2 linked regions of the Homo sapiens genome follow. The protein of the gene in region 1 interacts with the protein of each later gene in a biochemical or structural test. Each region holds a gene or a part of one and is shown in the gene's direction. Other genes may lie near its edges.

Region 1 (12,590 bases):
ACACGTCTCTTAACTTCTCTAAGCCACAGCTCCCTCTCCTCCGTAAAATGAGGATAATAAGAAAAACTACTGCAGAGCTGGTGCAAGATCAGATTGGAGGAGGGACATAAGCGCGCTGTGCAAACCTGGATGTACGGTACGAAAGGAACCTCCGTTCTAGGTTGCACCCAGCCTAAGCACCGTGAGGGCCGCGCGGCACGCGTTCAGCTTCCCGGGACGCTCTTCTCCCCACCCCTACTCCCGGCCTCCAGCCTCCCACCACCCACCTCCGGGCGGGGACCGGAAGTGCAGCCGCTTCCGCCGGGAGCCGCGGAGCTGAGGGACGCGCGGAGATGACGCAGGCAGCACCGGAAGCCGCTCCCCTGTGAGGCTGCGGACCGGGAGCAGCGGCCGCAGGTCCGGGTCTGTATGCGAGGCGGGGCCGGTCGGGGAGGGGACTCTTAGGCGCCCGCGGCTCTGCTGACCCGCCGCGCCTTGGCTGTTTTTCTTTCCCTGCAGGCGCCATGGCTGCGGAGCGGACCCGGCCGCTGCAAGGCTCTGGCGGTCCGAGCGTGCCTAGTAGCTGTGAACCCGGCGCGAGGTCCCGGGCCCCGGGGCGCTCGCTCAGGTCAGTGCCGCGCGGAACACGATTCCGAGAGCAAGGGACCTGGGAGCAACGAATGGGTTGATGGGATCTGGATTTTAGAGACGGGAAAACAGGGTTTTGGAGTTACTGCCTCCTACTGCCTCCATTTCCTTAGCTGCGAAATGAGTTAACAGTGATGTCCCAGGGCTACCAAACGTTTGAAAGACGATGAAGTGTGATGAGGTGGTTTATGAAGTACAAAGCGCTATACTGCGCCATAATTGTGGGTATGCCATGAAAACAGGTGTGTATGTGGGGTGCTGCTTGAAGTAAAGCAAAGATAACAATATTAATGCTAAGTAATAATGGTAACTGACATTTACTGTAGGCTTACAGCGTGCCGAGTACTGTGCTAAACGCTTTACTTGCACTGTCTTGTTTAACCCTCATAAAAACCCTTGTAGGTAATGCTCTTGGCTGTATTTTACAAGTGAGGAAACAGGGCATGAGACAGGTGAAGTGATTTGCCCAAGGTCACCCAGCAACAAGTGGAGTTGCAGAACACATATTTTATAAACATTATTTGTATTCTTTCAAAGCTTTAAAAAAATTCACCTTAAAACTAAAGGCTATTTTTTGATAGTATATTATACTTAACATGGTTTTCAGTTTTAAAAGGTATACAATAAAAAGGGACCCCTCATTCCTATTCTGCAGCTCTCCAGTTCTCTCTGGAGGCAACCAGGGTTATCAGTTTCTTGAATATTCAGAATACATTTTATGCATATGTAAGTTTATAGGTGTGTATACATTTTCAGCGCCTCTGTGCTCTTTGTTTGATAAGAAAAGGGGGAAATGAAGCCTCCTTCCCTCTACCACTAACAATTATGTTGCTTTCACTCTTGACTAGGCCAGGTTCTGATAGAGGAGGAGGGGAAAACACATTTACACTGTTTTCCAGAAGGTCCTGTCTCTAATACCTCTGAGTATAGGTTTTGGGAGAATGGGTACTGGGCAAAATATTGAGCCTGCTACTTCCTGTGCCATTCTGGGAAGGCCACTCCACTTCTTGAGCCGTAAATTTCCTCATTAATGTTAGTTAAGGGCGGCATTACTGATACCTTCCATGAGGTTATGAAGATGAAATGAGATAATGTTTACCAGTGGTACTTTTTCTTTAAAACCAATATAAATATGTGAGTTGCCTAGGTAACATAGGGAGTTAATGGCAGAACCTGAGACCAAACCCAGGCTCTCATTTTCCAATTTAGGAGTCTTTTTGTTGCATGACCCACTTTGTGATTATTGATACTGAAGGCAAGAGGGCAAGTTGAATGTTAACTCTGGGGTAGGGACGTAGGGTAAGGGGGCCAAACAGCAGGGAATGTGGGTAGAATAAGGCACCTACTGGGAAACTAGAGCCTCCAATAAACAGGTGCTCTTCTTTATAAAATTAAACCCCTAGTAAGTTTGAGCCCTTGAGTTTTTCTTCCAGGTATTTTGAAGAGAAACTTAGTGATAAGATGATAGGGTCAAAAGAGATGTTAGTGGTCATGTCCATTCCACCCTTAGTGTCACAGAAATCTTTACTGCCAGGTGTTCATAGTAGTAAAACTAACAAAAAGTACCATTTGAGTTTTTACCCGCTAGACTGTACACTGTGCTAAGCATGTCCCTGCTATATTTCTGAGTTTCACCCTTCAAGTTGGATGATGGCTTCCATTTTACAGATGATAAAACTGAAGCTTAAAAGTTAGTTGGACATGCCCATAATCACATAGGAAGTGGCTGAATCAGTAAAACATCTGGCCAACCTCCAAAGTATTTTCATTTATCACATTCTGCCTCTGTGTCCAACTGTCCTTGACTGTTCGTGGTAATGGGAAACTCACTACTCTGGAGGTAGCTATTCCATTGTTGGAAAGCGCTGAGATTTAAAAGCTCCTCATGTTGAATTGAAATCCCATTTCCTGAGGTTTGTGCAACCAGTGTATGATATTTCTAGAGGCTGCCTAAAAGAGTCCAGTTTAGACCTGTTACCTTAGAAGGCCCCCTCCAAAGTTAGTTGATCTGTTCAGAAAAGTAAAAATTGGTGTTTTTTAAATAGTGCATTCTGCAGTTAGTGAGACTTGCTTTTTTAGGGAAAAAAATGCCTTTTTCAGAATAATCAGAGGTGAACTGCTCAATCTTACAAGGGATTGAGTGGTTTAAAAGGCAATCTAAGAGTTGGGAAAATTTTTTTTATTAAGAGTTAGGAGAATATATAAATCTGAGACATGGCTGAATTTTTTTAGATGTGCTCTCTGAAAAAGCTTCTTCCGTAATCTTTAGCGGTGTCATGGGCACATTAATTTGGCATTTTTTTTTTAAATTTAAGTTCTAGGGTACATGTGCACAACGTGCAGGTTTGTTACATAGGTATACATGTGAATTTGGCATATTATAGTATGTCTCTTAGATATTTGTGAATGATGGGAACCTGATAATATTTTAATGAGTATTCTAAATTTGCCTTGTAGCCGTTTGAATAACAGTTCAGCTCACTTAAATACAAGCATTTCTACAATAGATGTGTGTCAGCATGTGTATGTATGTGTGTATATATGTATGTGTAGATGTGATGGAGGAAGCTTGCCACACCACACTTTTCACTGTTAAAAATGTTTCAGGAGCAGGTGTGTGGTTTTTTTTCTTTTTTTTCTTTTTTGAGATGGAGTCTTGCTCTCTCGCCCCGGCTGGAGTGCAGTGGCGTGATCTCGGCTCACTGCAAGCTCCGCCTCCTGGGTTCACGCCATTCTCCTGCCTCAGCCTCCCGACTAGCTGGGACTACAGGCACCCACCACCATGCCAGGGGAATTTTTTGTATTTTTAGTAGAGATGGGGTTTCACTGTGTTAGCCAGGATGATCTCGATCTCCTGACCTCGTGATCCGGCCGAGCCCACCTCAGTCTCACAAAGTGCTGTGATTACAGGCGTGAGCCACTGTGCCCAGCCTGGTGTGTGTTTTTAATTGACCAGTATTAATTAACTAGCTATTGTGACAATATGCAGATGCCCACAGAAGATAATTGCTTTGTCTTGTTGCAAATTATTATTTTTTAGAAGTAGAGATTTTGAAGAAATGTTGTATAGATAAGAGGGTTGTTAGGATTTAGAGGAAGGAGGGGGCTTGTTATTGCGTGATAAGTCGATAAAACTTTTAGCCATCTGATTATTTTTTGTCAGCTAGGTAAATTTTTAATACAGATTAATAAATCTTCTCTAGCCCAAACTTTGGCTTGAAACGTATTATCTTGAAGTCTAGTCACAGTTCCAGAAATCAAAACTGTTAGCAGATGATGTGATTGCAAGGTTTGGTTGCTTCTACTAATAAATCAGATTGCTTATTTGTCTAAGAATGTTATTGCCAAATTTGATATTGGACACTTACAATTTTACTCACCTTACATTATCAAAGTTGAAAGATGAGATCTTGCTTTTTGTGTAGACCTGATCTAGGTGATATGTCTGGAAAGAAATTAACTTTCCTTTTTCACATTAATTTGGACATATGTTTTTAAAATTAATATGACAGTCTTGTGAGAAACTGAGTATTCAGAAGGAAAGTTTTTATTAAACCATGGAAATATTTAAATATATGGAAATAAAGAGAATAATAAATCCCTATGTACACATCACCCAGCATTAACATCTATCAACACATAGTCTTGAGAAAGATAGTTTTTACTGGTTATATTTTTTGTAATCTTTCATTAGTCTAATCCTCATTAAGAGTGAATTAACACCTGTTGACACTAATACAGGATACTTTAAAAAAAATTATTTGTTACAGTTAGCTCAGGAGCAATTTGTCATTCTCCTAAAGGAGAAAATGGTCTAACGGGTAGACACACTACCTCCAGATCTTACCACTTGGTCGTGGTTCTCCTGGTTGTCACTTATTTTAGAGAGAGAGCTTGGTACCTGATCTTGAGAGCACTGGCGTCCAGTCTGTTCTGTGGCTATTTAGTAGCCCTGTGAATATAGGCAAATCACATACCTTCTCTAACCTGTAGTTTCCTCATTTGCAAAGTGAAGATGATAATGTCTATTTTCTGGTGTTTTATAAACATCAGGATTATTAATTTGCTTTATTTGTGCAGGCCTCCAGGACCCCTCATGGCTCTCGGGGGCACGTGGTTAAGAGTTGTCACTAGCTCATATGAGGTTTAGAAAAACAGACTAAAGCCACATAAGTTCTTTTATAATTCATGTTCTAAACAGGCAGTGCCATAAAGAAGTTGGAAGAACCAGAATTCCTGAGGCAGATAACTTACCACACCTGCTTTTCTTCCCTAAACCTTTTCATCTGAACATCTGTTGCAAAACCAAGTAGTCAGTTCTATGATTTTGGTGACAGGTTGTGCCTGCCATGACAATCAGTGTCTCAGGTTACTGCTCAGGAGACTGTTTCTGATTGTCACATCCTGGTGCTTGCTTTTGTGATTTTAGTACCCAAATAGAATGTATTAAGGAATTCATTAAGGAAATTGTTTTATAATGGTTTTGATGGGGGAAGGGTGTATTGTAAAATATACTGTTTTATAATGAATTGTTGGTAAATCTATTACTATGAAGATGCATGTAGCACGTGCTAGACTTCAAGAGGAATAAGTCACACACGCCAGTCTGTTTCACTGACATGTTTTGGATTCATGATTTGTTAAAGTATGTTTTCTCAAATGTGTTTTCTTTTGTGTGCATGGAAAGTGTTCAGATAAATATGGTGTATTAACTGTAAAGTTGTAATGTAACTACGCATAAAGTTGTAATGGCAGATTTTTTACACTAATTTTTAATACTTCATTTGTTAGCAGTCTTGCTTGAACAGTCTTTTTGAGCAGAACTAATACAATATTTTGATGTGCCACAGGTAAATTTTTCCATAACCTTATGGAGAGAAAGGACTTTGAGACATGGCTTGATAACATTTCTGTTACATTTCTTTCTCTGACGGACTTGCAGAAAAATGAAACTCTGGATCACCTGATTAGTCTGAGTGGGGCAGTCCAGCTCAGGCATCTCTCCAATAACCTAGAGACTCTCCTCAAGCGGGACTTCCTCAAACTCCTTCCCCTGGAGCTCAGTTTTTATTTGTTAAAATGGCTCGATCCTCAGACTTTACTCACATGCTGCCTCGTCTCTAAACAGTGGAATAAGGTGATAAGTGCCTGTACAGAGGTGTGGCAGACTGCATGTAAAAATTTGGGCTGGCAGATAGATGATTCTGTTCAGGACGCTTTGCACTGGAAGAAGGTTTATTTGAAGGCTATTTTGAGAATGAAGCAACTGGAGGACCATGAAGCCTTTGAAACCTCGTCATTAATTGGACACAGTGCCAGAGTGTATGCACTTTACTACAAAGATGGACTTCTCTGTACAGGTAAGAGATGTTGAAACTGCTTTTTGGGTTTTGTTTTGTATTTCATAGGGTGTAATCTTGAACCAGTCTTGAGCTTTGAGAATGACAAGTGTTGATTATATGAGATATGTACAGTGACTTTTTTTCTCTAATCCTGAGTGGTTCCCCCCCCTTATCCTCTTCCTTCTCTCTAGAGAACACAATCATTTTTATAAAATTTTATGAGAAAAACACTTCAGACTGTCTTTTAAACATTATGTGAATTACAAAGCTATAGATTACTTTTTCTTTGTGTTTCCTCCATGTGTAGTCCTCTGTTGCTAAATTCTGTTTCTTTTTCTGTTGGCACTGATATTTGAGGAAAAAAACAGTGGAAAAATTGGTATCTAATCCTAGCAAGTAGTTAGATCATTATGGCCAAATTACTTAACCTCTCTGTATCTTTAAAATATGGGAAAGGAGGTCGGGCGCAGTGGCTCATGCCTGTAATTCTAGCACTTTGGGAAGCCGAGGCGGGTGGATTGCCTGAGCTCAGGAGTTCGAGACCAGACTGGTCAACATGGTGAAATCCCGTCTCTACTGAAATACGAAAAAGTAGCCGGGCGTGGCGGCATGCGCCTATAATCCCAGCTACTCGGGAGGCTGAAACAGGAGAATCGCTTGAACCCGGGAGGCGGAGGTTCCAGTGAGCTGAGATGGTGCCACTGCACTCCAGCCTGGGTGACAGAGTGAGACTCCATCTCAAAATAAATATATATGTATATATGAAAGGAGATATTTCTTCCTTGCTCTGAAATCCTGTGATTCTAAGTAGAAGAAGTAGAAGTTGGAGTTTGGGCCTGGGAACAGAGAGAGCTGGATATTTTTTAACTAGGCAATTAAGTAATTTTATGAAACAATATAATTATTAAAAATTTAAAATTATATGTTATTTTCCATTTGTAATGGACGTGTGTTTCTGTATATGATTATAACTAATGCCCATGTGTTAGATAATACATTTTGACAGGCAATGTAAATAATTCTTAGGCAGCATTTAGAATAACTCCAGGCAGTTCTTGCTAATAATCCCAATGCCTGTTTCCTTACATTGTATATAATATATAGAAATACTTGGTGTTCTTTTTCATCCAAGATAACTTCCAATAAACATTTGTGTATTACGGTATAAACTGTTCCTTTTTGTAAATATATCAATAGTCATTATTTAGCCATTTCCATATTAATGCATATATTAGTCCATTCTCAGACTGCTAAAAAAACTGCCTAAGACCGGGTAATTTATGAAGAAAAGAGGTTTAATTGACTCCTAGTTCCACATGGCTGGGGAGGCCTCAGGAAACTTACAATCATGTCAGAAGGCAATATGATCATGGCGGAAGGCGAAGGGGAAGCAAGCACCTTGTTCACAAGGCAGCAGGAGAGAGAGAGTGTGAGTGAAGCAGGAAGAGGCCCTTATAAAACCATCAGGTCTGGAGAGAACTCACTCACTATCATGAGAACAGCATGGGGGGCCACCCCCATGATCCAGTCACCTCCCACCAAGTCTGTCCCTCAATACCTGGGGATTACAGTTCAGGATGAGGTTTGGGTGAGGACACAAAGCTTAACCATATCAATGCATATTCAGATTGTTTCTGTTTTTATTAGTGTCTTTGTATTACCTCTTTTTCCCTTGAATTCATTTGGGATAGAAGTCTAAAAGTAGAATCACCAGATACAGAAGTATGAATTATTTTATAGCTCTTTTTTTTTTTTTTTTTTTTTTTTTGAGATGGAGTCTCACTCTGTCACCCAGGTTGGAGTGCAGTGGTGCAATCTCGGCTCACTGCAACCTCTGCCTCCAGGGTTCGAGTCTCCTGCCTCAGCCTCCCGAGTAGCTGGGATTACAGGTGTGCGCCACCACACCCGGCTAATTTTTTTTGTATTTTTAGTAGAGGCGGAGTTTCACCTTGTTGCCCAGGCTGGTCTCAAACTCCTGACCTCAGGTGATCCACCCTCCAAAGTGTTGGGATTACAGGCGTGAGCCACCGTGCCCGGCCCAATTTTATAGCTCTTCTTAGTGCCCTTTCCAGATAGATTGAATTGATGCCATACCAATATAGTGTTAAGTAACTTGCTTCTCCCTCAGGAGTCTCACCAGACTCAATTTAAATATTTTTAATGTTGAGATGTATCATTTCTCAAGACCGTTTTACAATGCATTTCTTTATTCATTAAGGGTATGTATTATGTGGTGATATTTTCTCTGAAATGCTAGACACTCTGCTGGTTTTGGAAAATAAACATTTGATTTAAAGCATTTCATGGTTTGGTTTGTCATCCTGAAGTTATTTCACACTTTATTTTCCTTGTGTTACAAGCCTGATTACTAGAACAACATCACCAGTTCTTCTAGGCTTTGATGTACTTTCTCTGTTGTGGTGATGGCTTTTCCATGTCTCTTTTGCCTCATGATTTTAAAAGATTAAGATGCAGTTGACCAAATGAGGGGGCTCATGCCTGTAGTCCCAACACTTTGGGAGGCCAAGGCAGGCAGATTATGTGAGCCCAGGAGTTTTGAGACCAGCCTGGGCAACATAGCAAAATCCCATCTCTACAAAAAAATAAAAAAACAGCTGGGTGTGCTGGCTCACACCTGTGGTCCCAACTACTTGGGAGACTGAGGTGAGAGGATCGCTTGAGCCCAGGAGGTGGAGGTTGCAGTGAGCTAAGATTGTGCCACTGCACTCCAGCCTGGGCAACACAGCAAAACCCTGTCTCAAAAAAAAAAAAAATATTAAGATGCAGTATCATCTTGGAGCTTGGAGCTCCTACTGGCAGTTGACCATTTTTTCACAACCACCTGTAGCATTTTTTTTTTTTTTTTTGAAACAGGAGCTCCTCTGTCACCCGGGCTAGAGTGCAGTGGCGCAGTCTCGGCTCACTGCAACCTCCTCCTCCTGGGTTCAAGCGATTCTCTCGCCTCAGCTTCCTCAGTAGCTGGCATTACAGGCACGCGCCACCACAGCCCGGCTAATTTTTGTATTTTTAGTAGAGAAGGGGTTTCACCATGTTGGTCAGGCTGGTCTCAAACTCCTGATCTCAGATGATCTGCCTGCCTCGGCCTCCCAAAGTGCTGGGATTACAGGTGTGAGGCACTGCACCCAGCCGCATTTTTTTTTTTTCTTTTTTGGAGACAACCTCTCACTGGGTAGCTCCATCCTGGAGTGCAATGATGTGATCTTGGCTTTCTTCAACCTCCACCTCCTGGGCTCAGGTGATCCTCCCATGTCAGCCTCCCGGGTTTAGCTGGGACTACAAGCGAGCAACCCTATGCCTGGATCCTTTTTGTATTTTTTGTAGAGACAGGATTTCACCATGTTGCCCAGGCTGGTCTCGAACTCCTGGGCTCAAGCACTCCGCCCGTCTCAGCCTCCCAAAATGCTAGGATTACTGGTGTGAGCCACTATGCCTAGGTCCTCTTGCTTTAAAAAGTTTTTTTCTTCTCTCATCAAACCTTATTTTTGAAATGTAGTAAAAACTGCAGTTACTTGGAGTGGAAGTAAATGGGAAATATTCACTGAATTCTCTAACTACCTGGAAAGTTAATATCTACAATTCTACATTTTAAGATTATTCTCTTGGTGGGTCTGTATGTTAATGTGATTTTTATTCTGATTAAATTCATCAGGTTTGCATATTTAAAATTACGCTGTGCAGTGGTTGAAAATGATCCAAAGTATTAGTTTAATTTTTCTAACAGCAGCATCCCTGGAACTGTGAAGAGAGGTATTTGTGACAGAATTGTACATGTGTTTGTGTCATCTTGTTACTTAAGAGATTGAATTCTCATTGTGGTGGAATTGGGAAACCCTGAATTTGGCAATAAACTTAGTGACTCTCACATTAGTGCCTTGAGTAAGCAATAGACAGTTTTATTGAAGAGATTAATGGCTAATGACATTGAGGTAGTTATCTTTCTCTTTCGCAATTTATTTCTGAAATGGTAAGAAAGGAATCTATTATGCTTTGTGCTGTTCAGTAGATATTTACTTATGGGATGCCTACTGTTTGAAAAACAATGTGAGGGCATACACGGATGAATTAGAGCAGTTTTTTCTTGTGGAACATACACACTGGGACCAGGAAGATGACCTGACTGAGGTAAAAGTCTCTGTGTGGACTATAGCAAATCAAGAACACTTGCCTTTCTAAAGAGTGCAGCTGGTGCTCCATTGTAATAAATTATTGCCATGTGGGTGGGATTCAGGGTCAGAGTTGTTAGATCTGACTTCAAGAGAAGCCTGAAATCTAGAGTTCTGTGCAATAGTCTGATTTTTTTTAAAGTATTATTAAGATTTTTAAGATACTGAATGGGGAGGGATTTTTTTCTTTCGTGCAGTGTGAGAGTCCACATTTCTTTAGTCCTCTTTCACCTCTATGCTGCATCACTGGTGACCTCTTTGAAAACATGTTGGGTTAGCCAGTGCAGCAAATGGGAGTCCAGAGGGGAGGCTGACATAAAGCCAGAAAGGAGCAGAGAACAGTGATTCCTAAAGGATTCTCAGGAGTAGACTTGCATCACTATAAATGGAACTCGACTCAACCTGATTATTATTATTTTTTTTTAGGGTGTAAAACTGGCACAATGTTTTCCTATAAAAACTAGTTTAAATAATTAGTTTGGATAACCTTTTTTTTTGCAAATTGTGCGAAAACATACATAACATAAAATTTACCATTTTAATCATTTTAAAGCATACAGTTGAGTGCCATTAAGTACATTACGTTGTTGTGCAGTCATCACCACTATCCATTTCCAGAACTTTACATCTTCCCAAACTAAAATGGTATCAGTTAAACACTATACAGTGTTAACTGTATAAACAGTATATAATACACTATATAGTTAAACTGTATCCAATTTTTTTGTTTGTTTTTGGGGGGGTTTTCTTTTGAGATAAGGTCTCACTCTGTAGCCCAGGTTGGAGTGGTTGGAGTACAGTGACATGATCTTGGCTCACTGTAACTTCTACCTCCTGGACTCAAGCGATTCTTCCACTTTGGCCTCCCAAGTAGCTGGGACTACGTGTGTGTGCCACCATGCCCAGCTAATTTTTGTATTTTTTATGGAGATGGGGTCTCACCATGTTTCCCAGGATGATCTCTAACTCCTGGGCTTAAGCACTCTTCTTGCCTCAGCTTCCTGAAGTGTTGGGATTACAGGCATGAGCCACCATGTCCAGCCTAAACCCTGTCAGTTAAACATTGCCCATGCCCCTTCCCCCACAGCCTGTGGCAAAACAACCATTCTGCTTGCTTGCTTGTTTTATTTTTTTTTTTGAGACAGAGTCTCAATTTGGTGCCCAGGCTGGAGTGCAGTGGCTCAATTTTGGCTCACTGCAACCTCACCTCCCAGGTTCAAGCGATTATCCTGCCTCAGCCTCCCGAGTAGCTGGGATTACAGGCATGCGCCACCGTGTCTGGCTAATTTTTGTATTTTTAGTACAGACGGGGTTTCAACGTGTTGGCCAGGCTGGTCTCAAACTCCTGACCTCAGGTGAACCAGCCTCGGCCTCCCAAAGTTCTGGGATTACAGGCATGAGCCACCATGCCTGGCCCACCATTCTACTTTCTATGAATTTGACTACTCTAGGAACCTAATATAAGTGGAATCATACAGTATTTGTTCTTTTGTGGCTGGCTTAGTTCACTTAGCATGATGTCTTCAAGGTTCTTCCATATCATAACATCTCAGAATTTTATTCTTTTTTTTTTTTTTTTGAGACGGAGTTTTGCACTTGTTGCCCAGGCTGGAGTGCAGTGGCGCCATCTTGGCTCACCGCAACCTCCGCCTCCCGGGTTCAAGCAATTCTTCTGTCTTAGCCTCCCAAGTAGCTGGGATTACAGGCGTGCGCCACCACGCCTGGCTAATTTTTGTATTTTTATTAGAGATGGGATTTCTCCACGTTGGTAAGGCAGGTCTCAAACTCCTGACCTCAGGTGATCCTCCCGCCTCGGCCTCCCAAAGTGTTGGGATTACAGGTGTGAGCCACCACACCCGGCCAATTTTATTCCTTTTTAAGGCTGAATAACTCCATTCCATGTATGTATATATGTGTGTGTGTGTATGTGTGTGTGTGTGTGTGTGTGTGTGTGTGTGTGTGTGTGTATGTATATAAAATATATTCCATGTATGTGTCACATTTTGTTTGTCCTCTCCCCTGGTTTTTAACTGCCTTCTTGCCTCTAGTTTTCCCCCCTTCAAACCTTTTTCCATGATATAGCCATAGTGATCTTTCTGATATGCAAATAAGGTCATAGTTAAACAACCTCCTAACCCAGTTCTGCAGCCAAACCTTGCCACTATTTCGCAGTCAGACTGAACTGTTTTCATAATCAGTGTTCATGTTTTAGGCAGTGCTTTTGACAAGCATTGTAAATAACTCCTAGACGGTTTTTTGAATGATTCCAAATAGTTCTTTATGACTTGATCCCAGTTCCTTTTCAATAATTTTTGTGTTGCATATAGAGATATTTAATAGTTGCTTTAATAGGTATATACCAGGGATTGGCAAACTGTGGACTGTGGGCCAAATCCAGCAGAAGAGAGTAATTGCAACTCAATAGGTCAACGTCTAA
Region 2 (12,590 bases), on another chromosome or scaffold:
TCACCCTGGAGTAGGACTGACTTCTAAAGGGACCATCTGCATCCTTGCCTCCTTCTGGGCCATCATACATGTTGTTTTCTCTACCTGGGACATTTGAGTGCTCTTGTGCCTACCCTCACAGTCTTTCTTTTCCACAATCCAGCTTATTCTTTGGAAATCAGTGCAAACACTACTTTGAACTGTGGTTCCTAATTTCCACGAAAGGTTTTCTCTGTTCTTCTATTATGGCACTTTTCAGGGTCTCCCTTGTACATTTTAGTTTTTGTGTTTTTCAGTAAGTGCCTTGAGATCAGGGACCGGTTCTACTGGTCTGTTCCAACCATAGTTCCTTAAACATTGTGTTCCATTAATATTGGGTGAATTGAAATGAATTTATAGGAAGCTCCTTAACCTGGGGTCCTCAGACCTCTATGGGGTCCATGGACAGAATTTGAAGTGGGAAGGATATATGAACTTGGATGGAGGAAAATTACTTATTTGTTTTTTACCAACCTCTCCTTTGTAATTTAGCCATTTGTTCAATTATAATGTAGGCAAATAAAAATAAAAATAAAAATAAAATAAAGGCAGCAATAATAGCAGTACCCATGACCTTGTTACCAACTCTTAGGCTGTGGAGTGTTTTCCTGGATTCTACCCTTTTTTTAAGGTTTCTTAATAATAGAAGTTTATACAGAAACTATCTAATGTACTTTTTTTTTTAGATGAAGTCTTGCTCTGTCACCCAGGCTGGAGTGCAGTGACGTGATCTCGGCTCACTGCAGCCTCTGCCTCCTGGGTTCAAGCGATTCTCCTGCCTCAGCCTCCAGAGTAGCTGGGACTACAGGCGTGCACCACCATGCCTGGCTAATTTTTGTATTATTATTATTTTTTTGAGATGGAGTTTTGCTCTTTTTGCCCAGGCTGGAGTGCAGTGACGTGATCTTGGCTCACTGCAGCCTCTGCCTCCTGGGTTCAAGCGATTCTCCTGCCTCAGCCTCCAGAGTAGCTGGGACTACAGGCGTGCACCACCATGCCCGGCTAATTTTTGTATTATTATTATTTTTTTGAGATGGAGTTTTGCTCTTTTTGCCCAGGCTGGAGTGCAATGACGCGATGTCAACTTGCTGCAACCTCCGCCTCCCAGGTTCAAGGGATTCTCCGACCTCAGCCTCCCAAGTAGCTGGGATTATAGGCATGCTCCACCACGCCCAGCTAATTTTTTTGTATTTTTAGTAGAGGTGGGGTTTCACCATGTTGGTCAGCTGGTCTTGAACTCCAGACATCAGGTGATCCACCTGCCTCGGCCTCCCAAAGTGCTGGGATTACAGGCGTGAGCCACCGCGCCTGGCCTAATTTTTGTATTTTTAGTAGAGATGGGGTTTCACCATGTTGGCCAGGCTGGTCTCGAACTCCTGACCTCAAGTAATTCGCCCGCCTTGGCCTCCCAAAGTGCTGGGATTACAGGCGTGAGACACCATACCCGGCCCCTAACATACATATTTTTATATCACAATTAGTTATTGTATATTTCTCAAAATATTATTTATGCTCAATACACGTTTGAAATTACAGTGGCAATAACTAACTAATAAGACCTAGTGCTCGGTAATTACTTAATATGATAATAAGCACATATTATTAAATTTTGATTTATATTTCAAATATTTCGATATAATTTTGTTATATTGTATCTACTTTATTTCATGCATTTACAAATATTCTAAGAAGGGGTCCATAGGCTTCACTAGACAGGCAAGAATGATTCGTGGCACAAAAAAGTCAAGATGTCAAATTTCCCCATCTTTGTATGTGTATATTATGCTGTATCTATCTCCAATATCCCTTGTTTGGTACCCATTCATTTAGCCAACATCTTGCATGAGTACCCATTGAATCTTGAGTACTGGAAAGGTAATTCTAAGTAAGACGTAAACTTTGAGTTGAGAATGAAGTCTATTATTCTAAAAAGCCCACTGCCCCCTTTCTATTCTCTCCTGTCCCTTCAGTCATTGGTGTTTTGAGGTCACCCTTGACCCAGCTCAAGGGTGATTTGAGGCTGGATATAGTATGGTGCCCCTCAAATTCCAGTCCAATGGCCCCATCCTACTTTATGACGGCCCATTCTGTAGGGGTCACTGACTTGGCAGGAAGCCTAGGGTAGGACCAAATCAAAGTGGCTAACCTTGCCTTACTCCCACTGGGGTACTTGCCTTACTTGTTCCTGCCTTCAGGGCCTTTCCTGTCCCATTGTCAATCCTAAAATAGATTTCCTCCTTGGCTCCCTAGCGAGATTTATTTACAAAGTTGTTTTCTGGGCCTGATCCTCATCGTAATTGTTTATCTGGCAAAATAGCTGCCTGGCCCCCTCTTCCCTGCTCCTGACCCGTGTGTTCAGGAAAGTCCTAGAGGTTCAAAGACTGATAAGGTTTAATGTCTTACTCACTCCATGGAAATTTGCATCTTTGGCAATACTATATCTAGTGCTTTCCCTCAATACTATAAGCAGTATGTGACCAACTTAGAAAATGTAGATTAGATTTTTTTTTTTTTTTTTTAGTTTAAAGAAAGGAGAAAGCACCCATAAGATCACCACCCCAAAACCAAGCCTGACTAATACTTGGACAAGATTCCAATCATCCTTCTATGTATACATTTTACAAAGTTGAGCTCACGGACTCTATGAAATACTGTTTACATTTCCTCAATATTACTAAAGTGTCTTCCGTGAGCATGAAATAGTCTTCATAAAGATTTTGTATGACCATATAAGAAGCCATTTTGTGGCTGTACTATATACATTATTTAAGCAAAATATCTAACAACTAAAAATCAATCTTTTTTTTCTTTTAATGGGAGACTTTTGTACTCTGTAAGAGGAATTTAGCATATTGGTTTACATTGTGAGGTTTGGATTTAGACCTGGATTCAAACCCTGTCTCCCCTGCTTAATAGCAATGTGACTTTAGACAAATACCTATTTCTTTATCTCCAATGTGGAGATAATACTCTACTTCACAGGGTGATTATTGATATTAAATGAGGTAGTACATATGAAGTGCCTGGTGAGTAGCAAGTCTTGATACAGGAAAGCTGCTGCCTGTTACTATTACTACTGCTACCATTACTACTGAGTTTTCAGCCAAAGGACTAAATCTCTAATTATGAAATTTCAGCTATCATTGACCTAGCTTCGAGGATCTATTTGTAAAGGTGGTATTTTTTCTAGTGCCCGTGAAATCATGTGTGTGGCTGTCTCTTATTTTGGTCTGGGCCTGTTTCTGCACCTTTGTCCTCCCACTGAGTTGGCTTTGGTAGCCCCTCTATGCCACCCATACCCACCTCTACTGAGGCCCCCTTCCCCTCTTGAGCCTAAGGAAGCCAATGAGACATAAATATAGGAAGCATTAGCAATGCAAGGCAGTATATAGAACCACCGACATCAGCACTGAAATGGTCTTTGGACCATTTATCTAGTTTAATTGGCTGCCCTCCATCCCATTCCTGCCTTTGCACAGGTAAGGGAAACTAAGGCCCAGGAAAAGGACAGGAGTTATCCAAGGTTGTAGATTTGACCAGCTACATGCTAGGCTTGGAATCCAGTGTTCTTCTTTGTTTTTAATTTTTATTTTAAGTTCAGGGGTACATGTGCAGGTTTGTCATAAGGTAAACTCATGTCATGGGGGTTCATTGTACAGATCATTTTATCACCCAGGTATTAAGCCTAGTACCCATTAGTTATTAAAATATTTTTTCCTGATCATCTCCCTCCTCCCACCCTCCACCTTCTATGTGTCTGTGTGTTCTCATCATTTAATTCCCACTTATAAGTGAGAACATGTGGTATTCTACAACCTCTGCCTCCCGGGTTAAAGCGATTCTCGTGCCTCAGCCACCAAAGTAGCTGGGATTACAGGTGTGCACCACCTTGCCTGGCTAATTTTTGTGTTTTTAGTAGAGATGGGGTTTCGCTATATTGTCCAGGCTGGTCTTGAACTCCTGGCCTCAAGGGATGCGTCCATCTTGGCCTCCCAAAGTGCTGGGATTACAGGTGTGAGCTACCATGCCCAGTCTGGCATTTGATTTTCTGTTCCTGCATTAGTTTGCTAAGGATAATGACCTCCACTCCATTCATGTTCCTGCAAAGGACATGATCTTGTTGTTTTTTATGGCTGCATACTAACATACATTTTCTTTATCCAGTCTACCATTGACTGGCATTTAGGTTGATTCCATGTCATTGCTATTGTGAATAGTGCTTCAATGCACATGCGCGTTTATGTATTTTTATGATAGAATGATTTATATTCCTTTGGATATATACCCCATAATGATATTGCTGGGTTGAATGGTAGTTTTGTTTTCAGGTCTTTGAGAAATTGCCACACTGTTTTCTACCATGGTTGAACTAATTTACACTCCCACCAACAGTGTATAAAGGTTCCCTTTTCTTTGCAATCTCACTAGCATCTGTTATTATTTTTTTTTGATTTTTTAATAATAGCTATTCTGACTTGTGTGAGATGGTATCTCATTGTGGTTTTGATTTGCATTTCTCTAATGATGTAAATTTTTTATATATGCTTCTTGGCCACATGTATGTCTTCTTTTGAAAAGTGTCTCTTCATATCCTTTGCTCACATTTTAATGGGGTTGTTTTTTTTCTTGTAAATTTGTTAAAGTTCCTTATAGATGCTGGATATTAGACCTTTGTAAGTTGCATAGTTTGCAAATATTTTCTCTGGTTCCGTAGGTTGCCTGTTAACTCGATAGTTTCTTTTGCTGTGCAGAAGCTCTTTAGTTTAGTTAGATCTCATTTGTCAATTTTTGCTTTTGTTGCAATTGCTTTTGGCGTCTTTGTTATGAAATCTTTGTCCATTCCTATGTTCAGAATGGTATTACGTAGGTTTTCTTTGAGGGTTTTTATAATTTTGAGTTTTACATTACTTTTACATTTAAGTCTTTAATACATATAGAGTTGATTTTTATATGTGAGATAAGGATGGGGTCCAGTTTCAATCTTCTACATATGGCTAACCAGTTATCCCAGCACTGTTTATTGAATTGGGAGTCCTTTTTCCATTGCTTGTTTTTGTCGACTTTGTCAAAGATCAGATGGTTGTAGGTGTGTGGCCTTATTTCTGGGCTCTCTATTCTGCTCCATTGGTCTCTGTGTCTGTTTTTGTACCAGTACAATGCTGTTTTGGTTACTGGAGCCCTCTAGTATCATTTGAAGTTGGGTAGCATGATGCCTCCAGCTTTGTTCTTTTTGCTTAGGATTGCCATGGTTATTCAGGCTGTTTTTTTGTTTCCATATGAATTTTAAAATAGTTTTTCCTAGTTCTGTGAAGAATGTCATTGGTAGTTTGATAGGAATAGCATTGAGTCTATTCTATGAATTGCTTTGGGCAGTATCACCATTTTAACAATATTGATTCTTCCTATTCATGAGCATGGACTGTTTCTCCATTTGTTTGTGTCATATCTGATTTCTTTGAGCAGTGATTTGTAGTTCTTCTTGTAGAGATCTTTCGCTTCCCTAGTTAACAGTATTCCTAGATATTTATTCTTTTGTGGCAGTTCTGAATGGGATTGCCTTCCTGATTTGGCTCTTGGCTTGACTGTTGTTGGTGTATACGAATGCTAGTGACTTTTGTATGTTGATTTTTGTACACTGAGACTTTGCTGAAGTTATTTATCAGATTAAGGAGCTTTTGGGCCGAGACTATTGGATTTTCTAGATATAGGATCATGTCATCTGCAAACAAGGATAGTTTGACTTCCTCTCCTCTTGCTTGGTTGCCCTCTATTTCTTTCTCTGGTCTGATTGCTCTGGCCAGGACTTCTAATACTATGTTGAATATGAGTGGTGAGAGAGGGCATTCTTGTCTTGTGTCGGTTTTAAAAGGGAATGCTTCCAGCTTTGGCGCATTCAGTATGATGTTGGTTGTGGCTTTATCAGATGGCTCTTATTATTTTGAGGTATGCTCCTTCAATACCTAGTTTATTGAGAACTTTTAACATGAAGGGGTGTTAGATTTTATTGAAAGCTTTTTCTGCCCTTTAGATTATCATGTGGAACCCAGTGCTCTTTGTCCTGATATTAATTTGCCTCTGCAATTGTTTACCAGTGCTATAGATAATCCAGGTAGATCAGAGGTGAGAAGAGAACCCTGTGAGATGAAGCTGTCTAGTATAGATGGAAAGGCCTTCCTGGAAGAAGTACAGTTATCATTTGCCTGCTCTTAGTTGTAGGCTGATCTGCATTCTTTTTTAAAAATTTTTTTGAGACAAAGTCTCGCTCTGTTGCCCAGGTTGGAGTGCAGTGGTGTGATCTCGGCTCACTGCAACCTCTACCTTCTGGGTTCCAGTGATTCTCATACCCCAGCCTCCCAAGTAGCTTGAACTACAGGTGTGCACCACCATGCCCGGATAATTTTTGTATTTTTAGTAGAGATGGGGTTTTGCCATGTTACCCAGGCTGGTCTCGAACTCCTGGCCTCAAGCAATCCACCCACCTCGGCCTCCCAAAGTGCTGGGATTACAGGCATGAGGCATTGCACCCGGCCTTCATGCTTGTCTGTTCTTTGGTAAGTATTGCTCTGTGGCTGTGTTGTTTGTCTTCAATAAGCTGCTTGGGAGCAGGGGTTGTGTTTGGGTCAATATTCTCCCTTCATCCCCATCAGTATCTAAGTTGCCCAGGCTCTTAGCATCCTAACTCCTTCCTCTGTGGTTGAGCAGAGACACTTGTCTCAGGCTCTGTTGAACACAGAGCCAGATGACTAACCTGCTTCCTTTGATCTCATCCTAGATCAGTGTGCGTGTGACCACCATGGATGCAGAGCTGGAGTTTGCCATCCAGCCCAACACCACCGGGAAGCAGCTATTTGACCAGGTAAGGCGGAGACTCCTTAGCCTCCTCTCCTTCTCTGAATAGCTTCCACCACAATGCCAACAATCCATGACTTTTGCCTCTTGTCAAAGAATCTCTCTTCCTGTTCACTCCAAGATAGATCAAAATGAAGGCTGATTCCAGACTTAATATGAAAGGAGGCAAAGTTAAACTTTGGCAGCCTGCACCCTATGGTCCTGATTAATTTTATCTTTGGTCCTGAATAAGGGAGAAAAGAAAATGGTGTATATTCTATGCTAGATGCTTTAAAAATCTTAGCATATGGAGCCTTCCTTTTAACTCTGAAACATGTAAGTGATGTCTTCTCCATTTTAATGATGAGGCTCAGAAGTTAAATAACTTAATTGCACCCAAATGATATTTGGCTGGGATTTGCACTCCACATTGTTGCCACTGCACCACACTGCCTCTGTCCCATGTTTTTGCTTCCTAGTAGAAGGAAACTAACTTACTCTCCCTGAGGTAGTAAGCTCTATGCACATTTCTCTCAAAAGAATGTTGGGACTTAGGACAACATGGGAGTTGATGGATGCAGTAGGAGGCTGCTTCATCTCCTACAGGCATGCCATGAAGATAATTGCTTACTCGCCATAGTGAAGAGGTCATTCCCATCTCCAACCCAAGGGGTGTCCCTTCATTGTGAATCATTATTGTCAGAAAGGATGTACTGTATACTATAATAAACAGATGGCAGCTACAGACATTTTTAGCATTCAAGGGAATGTGCCGTCTGTGGCCAGACTTCTAGGAGCAAAAATGAGGCTCCCATTTCCAGAGGCTGGGACCTCACCAGACAGGCCATTATCCTATTTCTCCACCAGACTCCGATGAAGTGGAGGTCTGAGTTATTGTCCAGGATGTTAGGCTGCATATCACCCTGATGGATTCTCCAGGCCCTCTTGCTTCCCTTTCTTCCTTGCTCTCTGTGTCCTTCTACCATATGAGAACTTCCCCAGGGTTGGAGAGAGGAAGAAAAAAAGAAGGAGGTAGTGTTCAAATAAGCTAATTCTATTCCTGTGAATACTTCTGACTGGTGAGAGAAAAGACAAGAGTAGAATGGAGACAGGGGTAGGAGAGGGCTAGAAATTTGAGGACAGCTTGGGTACACCTTCTGAGTTCTTATTACATAGAGTGGGAAAATTATTGTCTGTGGCTAATACAGATGAGAGTTAACATTTATCCAGGACTCAGTGTATGCTAAGTATTATGATAAGCATTTGACTATCACAAAGCTCTGTGAGTGCATGAATTAGTATGGGCATGTTTTACAGATGAGGACACAAAATCCTCATTTTCCTAGTTAGACCCTGGGAAAATTATTGAACTCTCTGGGTTGGTATCTTCATCCCCTCCCCCCGAGAAATATCTAATACTTACCTCACAGGATTTTTGTGAGTGTGTTATGTTTTGTATCTTACCTGTTACTCAAAAATCTGATTATAGTGGCATATAAGGATGTCCAATCCAAAAAGATAAATTCGAAATAGGTGAGAAAGATAAGAAAACACAAATAGGAAAGAAAGTGTTAGCTGGAAGAAAGCATCCAGCATATGGTAGAGAAGTAATAAATGATAGCTCCCTTTCCAATACCATTGTGCTTCTTGTATTATTAATTGAGCTGGAGTTGACGTGATGTGGTGGCTCATGTCTGTAATCCTAACACTGAGATGGGAGGATTGCTTGAGCCCAGGGGCTCGAGACCAGCCTGGGTAACACAGCGAGACCCTGTCTCTACAAAAAATTTAAAAATTAGCATGGCATGGTGGTGCACACCTATAGTCCCAGCTACTCAGGAGATTGTGCCAGGAGGGTTGCTCAAGCCCAGGAGTTCAAGGTTACAGTGAGCTATGATCACGCCACTGTACTCCAGCCTAGGTGACAGAGCAAGACTCTGTCTCTAAAAAAAAAAAAAAAAAGTAAAGAAAAATAATCTAGAATTGGGAGAATTGGGAGATGGGCTTAATGATCCTCAGAATATCTAACTTCAGATTTAGGTGGAACTTACTTCTCTGGAGTTTGTTTTGTGTTTGTTTTACTTTGAATGGCAAAGTGTAATCATTGATACTTAATTGGTGAAAATACAAATTAGTCTGAGGAATATTTAAATACAAGTTTACTACAATTAAAGTGATGTGCTTACATTCACATAGCTCACAAGTGATTATGGTGCTAGTCTGGAATGACTAAATGCATTCTAATTATAATTGTGCTTTGCATTCTCTCTTCACATGGAGGTTATATTGGAGAACTTTTAAAGGGACAGCCTAGTGAAGTCAAAAGGGCCTGGATAGAAAGTCATGAATCTTGGGCTGTAGGGTTGGCTCTATCACTAATTCGCTGTGATACAAACGTTTCCCTTATTTGGGCCTCAGTTTCTCATCTGTACAATGCCTAACTTGTTTCTCAAATCTGGTTATCTCTCAGAAAATTTATCTCTGGCATTTATTTGTGCATTCCATCTCTCTTTCTCTCCCATTTCTGTTCCTAGTATTGGGATTTCAGACAATCCTTTTCTGTAAAAAGGAGAGAAATGCCTCACCTGAGTATGATCAGCTGCTGGCATATGTGAGGAGGTAGGGCTAGCTGGCAGGGGGATCATCTCTTCCTTGACAGGCTTTTTACTGTCTCTAAGACAAAAGGGAGGAAGTGTCCATAGAACACATAGGCTTTTGGGCCCTTTGCTTTAGACAGCAGTATCATTCTGGGTAGCAGCTATTAGAGAGGGAAGCGGTTAGTCAGTGCAGATTTTACAGACCAGCTGGGAGCCAGAGGCTCCTTTGACATTTACCTATACTCCTTCCAAGAGCCCTGATTCTACTAATTCCCCATCCCAAACCAGATGACGCCATCCTCTACCCTCAACACTGGGGGCTTTGTATATGTGCATTGCAGGGGGATGGCTGTGGAGGATGAGGAAGGCATGATTTGGAGCCTAGTGGGGGCAGAAAAATTCTTGAACAAAGAGGTTTATTAACTTCAAAAAACCTCAATGCCTGGTAGTTTTTTGTTAGTGTTGGTTTGGTTTGTGTGCTGTGGGTGTGGATTTGAGGGAAGTCCAGATAGTAGGGAACCCCAGATAGTAGGGAACCCTGGGCAGATTGGTATGCTAGTTCTGAATGCTACTGCTTCCAAAACAAAGCCTTTGGGAGACTTGGAAACCAAGAAGTCCATGACTTCTCATCATTGTTATCTTGAGAAGTATCATTTATTGAGCACATACTATGGCCTATTCCTGGCTAGGCGCTTTAATCCTCACAATGCTCCTGCCTCTGTGAGGTGAAAGAACATACTCTAGGTCATGTAGTTAGTAAGTTGTGATATGGAATTTTGAATACAACTCTGATCACAAAACTATACTTTTCCTGCACTGCACTACTCTGTTTGGGGTGATTGGGAGTATTCAACTTAGAGAAGACTCAAGGAAGATATGCTTTCTGTCTTCAGACCTCTGAAGGACTATCATAAGAAGGAGGGGGGCAGTCACATTCTGTGAGTCAGAGGGACAGAGGTGGACCCCACAGGTGAGAAAATACAGGGAAAAAGATTTGAACTCAAGGAATTGAGCATTTGGCCCTCTTGAGGCCAAGGCAGGTCAGGTCAGGAATCAGTAGAGTTATGTGTTCATAGGCATTTGGGGGATGTGAGCTCTTCTCTCTCTAACTTGATGAGGCATAAGGGAGGAAGTCCGTTCTGTCTGGCTCTTGGGACCCATCATTCAAGGAGGCCCTCCTGGTAGAGCCTGGGCCTGGGAGGAAGGAGCTAGACTCCTTGGCAGGAATTGGCAAAAGCTTTATGGCCATCCTGGAACGCAGCAGTCATCTGGCCAATGACCAGAGAGGAAGCCAACCAGAGAGGAAGTACTCCTTGGCACCAGCAATAAATAATAGGCAACAATGGGATGCCATAGCTTGAGGAAGTCTAGGGCCTGGTGGGAAAGGGAAGTAGGACTCATAGTTTGTCTCATTTACCTCTCTTCTTGTGAGTGTGCTACAGCTAGAGGGGAGAGAGAACATGTTTTGCTATAGTGATTTTGTCACTTGCTTCAACTTCTAAAGCTTTTGATCTTGGATTACCTAGGTGCCACTAAAGGGCTGTGCTCAAGGACAGAGGTGAAATCTCAAAGCATCGATTCATTCATCTATTTACTGATTCATTTAATATTGACTGAAGGTCTACACTGTCGAACACCATCTCTGTTCTTCAGGAACTTGGAGTTCCTTACCTATAAAAGCATAGAAAGGCACATGCAACTCTCTACCCACAAAGAAAGAAATAAACGCCCTTGAGGTCAGGTTCCATGGGGTGATATATAAAGCATAGGATTTAGAACCAGCCCTGAGTTCAAATTCTGTCCTGTTACTTCGCTGTGTGACCTTGGATGGCTCATTTAGCCTCTCAGTACTTTCCTTTCCTTTGTAAAATGATAATCATGCTAATCTCAGATTTTGTGATTTAATCCTCAAATAAGTAAAATGCCTGGTGCATACCAAGCATTCTAATATTGGTGGTTCTTATTAAGGACTAAAGTAGGTGGCATTGCCCTGAGAGTTCAGATGAGGGAGCTATGAAATCAGGAAGTTCTTCTGGCTCAGTAAAGTACTTAGGACTTGAATACTCTGCAATAAGGACAGTAAACCTTTTTTTTTTTCATTTTATAAAATAACTAACATATATTATAGTAGGAGGATCTCCATCTTACAGATGAGGAACTGAGGCTTACAGAGGTGAAATTATCTGTTTAAGGTCATATAGCTAGGAAGTGGTATAGCTGGGGCTTAAACCAGGGCACATAGCATTTCCAGTTTTTCTAATGCTTTTGATCAACTGTCCTCTGGAACCTTCTTCCACTTTACCTGCTTCCAAAACTTAGAACCCTAGCTAGGTTGGGCATGGTGGCTCATGCCTGTAATCCTAGTGCTTTGGGAGTCCAAGGTGAGAGGATCACTTGAGGCTAGGAGCTTCAGACCAGCCTGGGCAACATAGCGAGACCCCATCTCTACAAAAACTTAAAAATTAGCTGGGCATGGTGGTGCATGCCTGTAGTCCTAGCTACTTGGGTGGCTGGGGCTGGAGAATCACTTGAGTCCAGGAGTTCAAGGTTACAGTGAGCTATGATTGCACCACTGCACTCCAGCTTGGTTAACAGCAAGACCCTATCTCTAAACAAACAAACAAAAAACGATAAAAGAAAGAAACTTAGAACCTCAGCTGAGTATGTTCTCTGTTATAGAGCAGGTGACCACTTGACCACAGGCAATGTGTAATAACAGAAACAGCAATAGTGGTAGCCCATCTTGGTGCTTTCCAGTGGTGCAATAATTTGCTTTCAGGTGGGTGGCTGATGCAGATGCTGCCAAATCTGTAATGGTATCTTGGGGGTCTCAGGTGTTTGGGCATTGATGCAGTTTTGCACATTGTTTCTCACACAGTTCTTCTCTTGTGGCTCCAGCATTACTCCCTCATTCTCCTCTAGGCGTGCACGCTCGTGTGTGTGTGTGTGTGTGTGTGTGTGTGTGTGTGTGTTTGGAGACAAGGTCTCGCTCCGTCACCCAGGCTGGAGTGCAGTGGTGTGATCTCACTGCAACCTTCGCACCCCACAGTCTCAAGTGATCCTCCCACTTCAGCCTTCCAAGTAGCTGGGACCACAGGTGCCCACACCAGCTATCTTTTTGTATTTTTAGTAGAGATGGGGTCTCAC

Evidence for each region.
Region 2: the proteins of FBXW2 (region 1) and MSN form a complex in vitro, tested with the Homo sapiens proteins (one study listed by BioGRID).

What each region holds. Positions count from the first base shown.
Region 1 is NC_000009.12:120,781,166-120,793,755, reverse strand, and holds the start of FBXW2 (F-box/WD repeat-containing protein 2), read left to right. Parts: upstream 1-339; 5' UTR 340-402; exon of another isoform or gene 403-498; 5' UTR 499-607; exon of another isoform or gene 608-793; coding exon of another isoform or gene 794-869; intron 870-5,477; coding exon of another isoform or gene 5,478-5,497; coding exon 5,498-5,987; intron 5,988-12,590. UniProt on the Homo sapiens protein: Substrate-recognition component of the SCF (SKP1-CUL1-F-box protein)-type E3 ubiquitin ligase complex.
Region 2 is NC_000023.11:65,710,028-65,722,617, forward strand, and holds part of MSN (moesin), read left to right. Parts: intron 1-6,790; coding exon 6,791-6,874; intron 6,875-12,590. UniProt on the Homo sapiens protein: Ezrin-radixin-moesin (ERM) family protein that connects the actin cytoskeleton to the plasma membrane and thereby regulates the structure and function of specific domains of the cell cortex.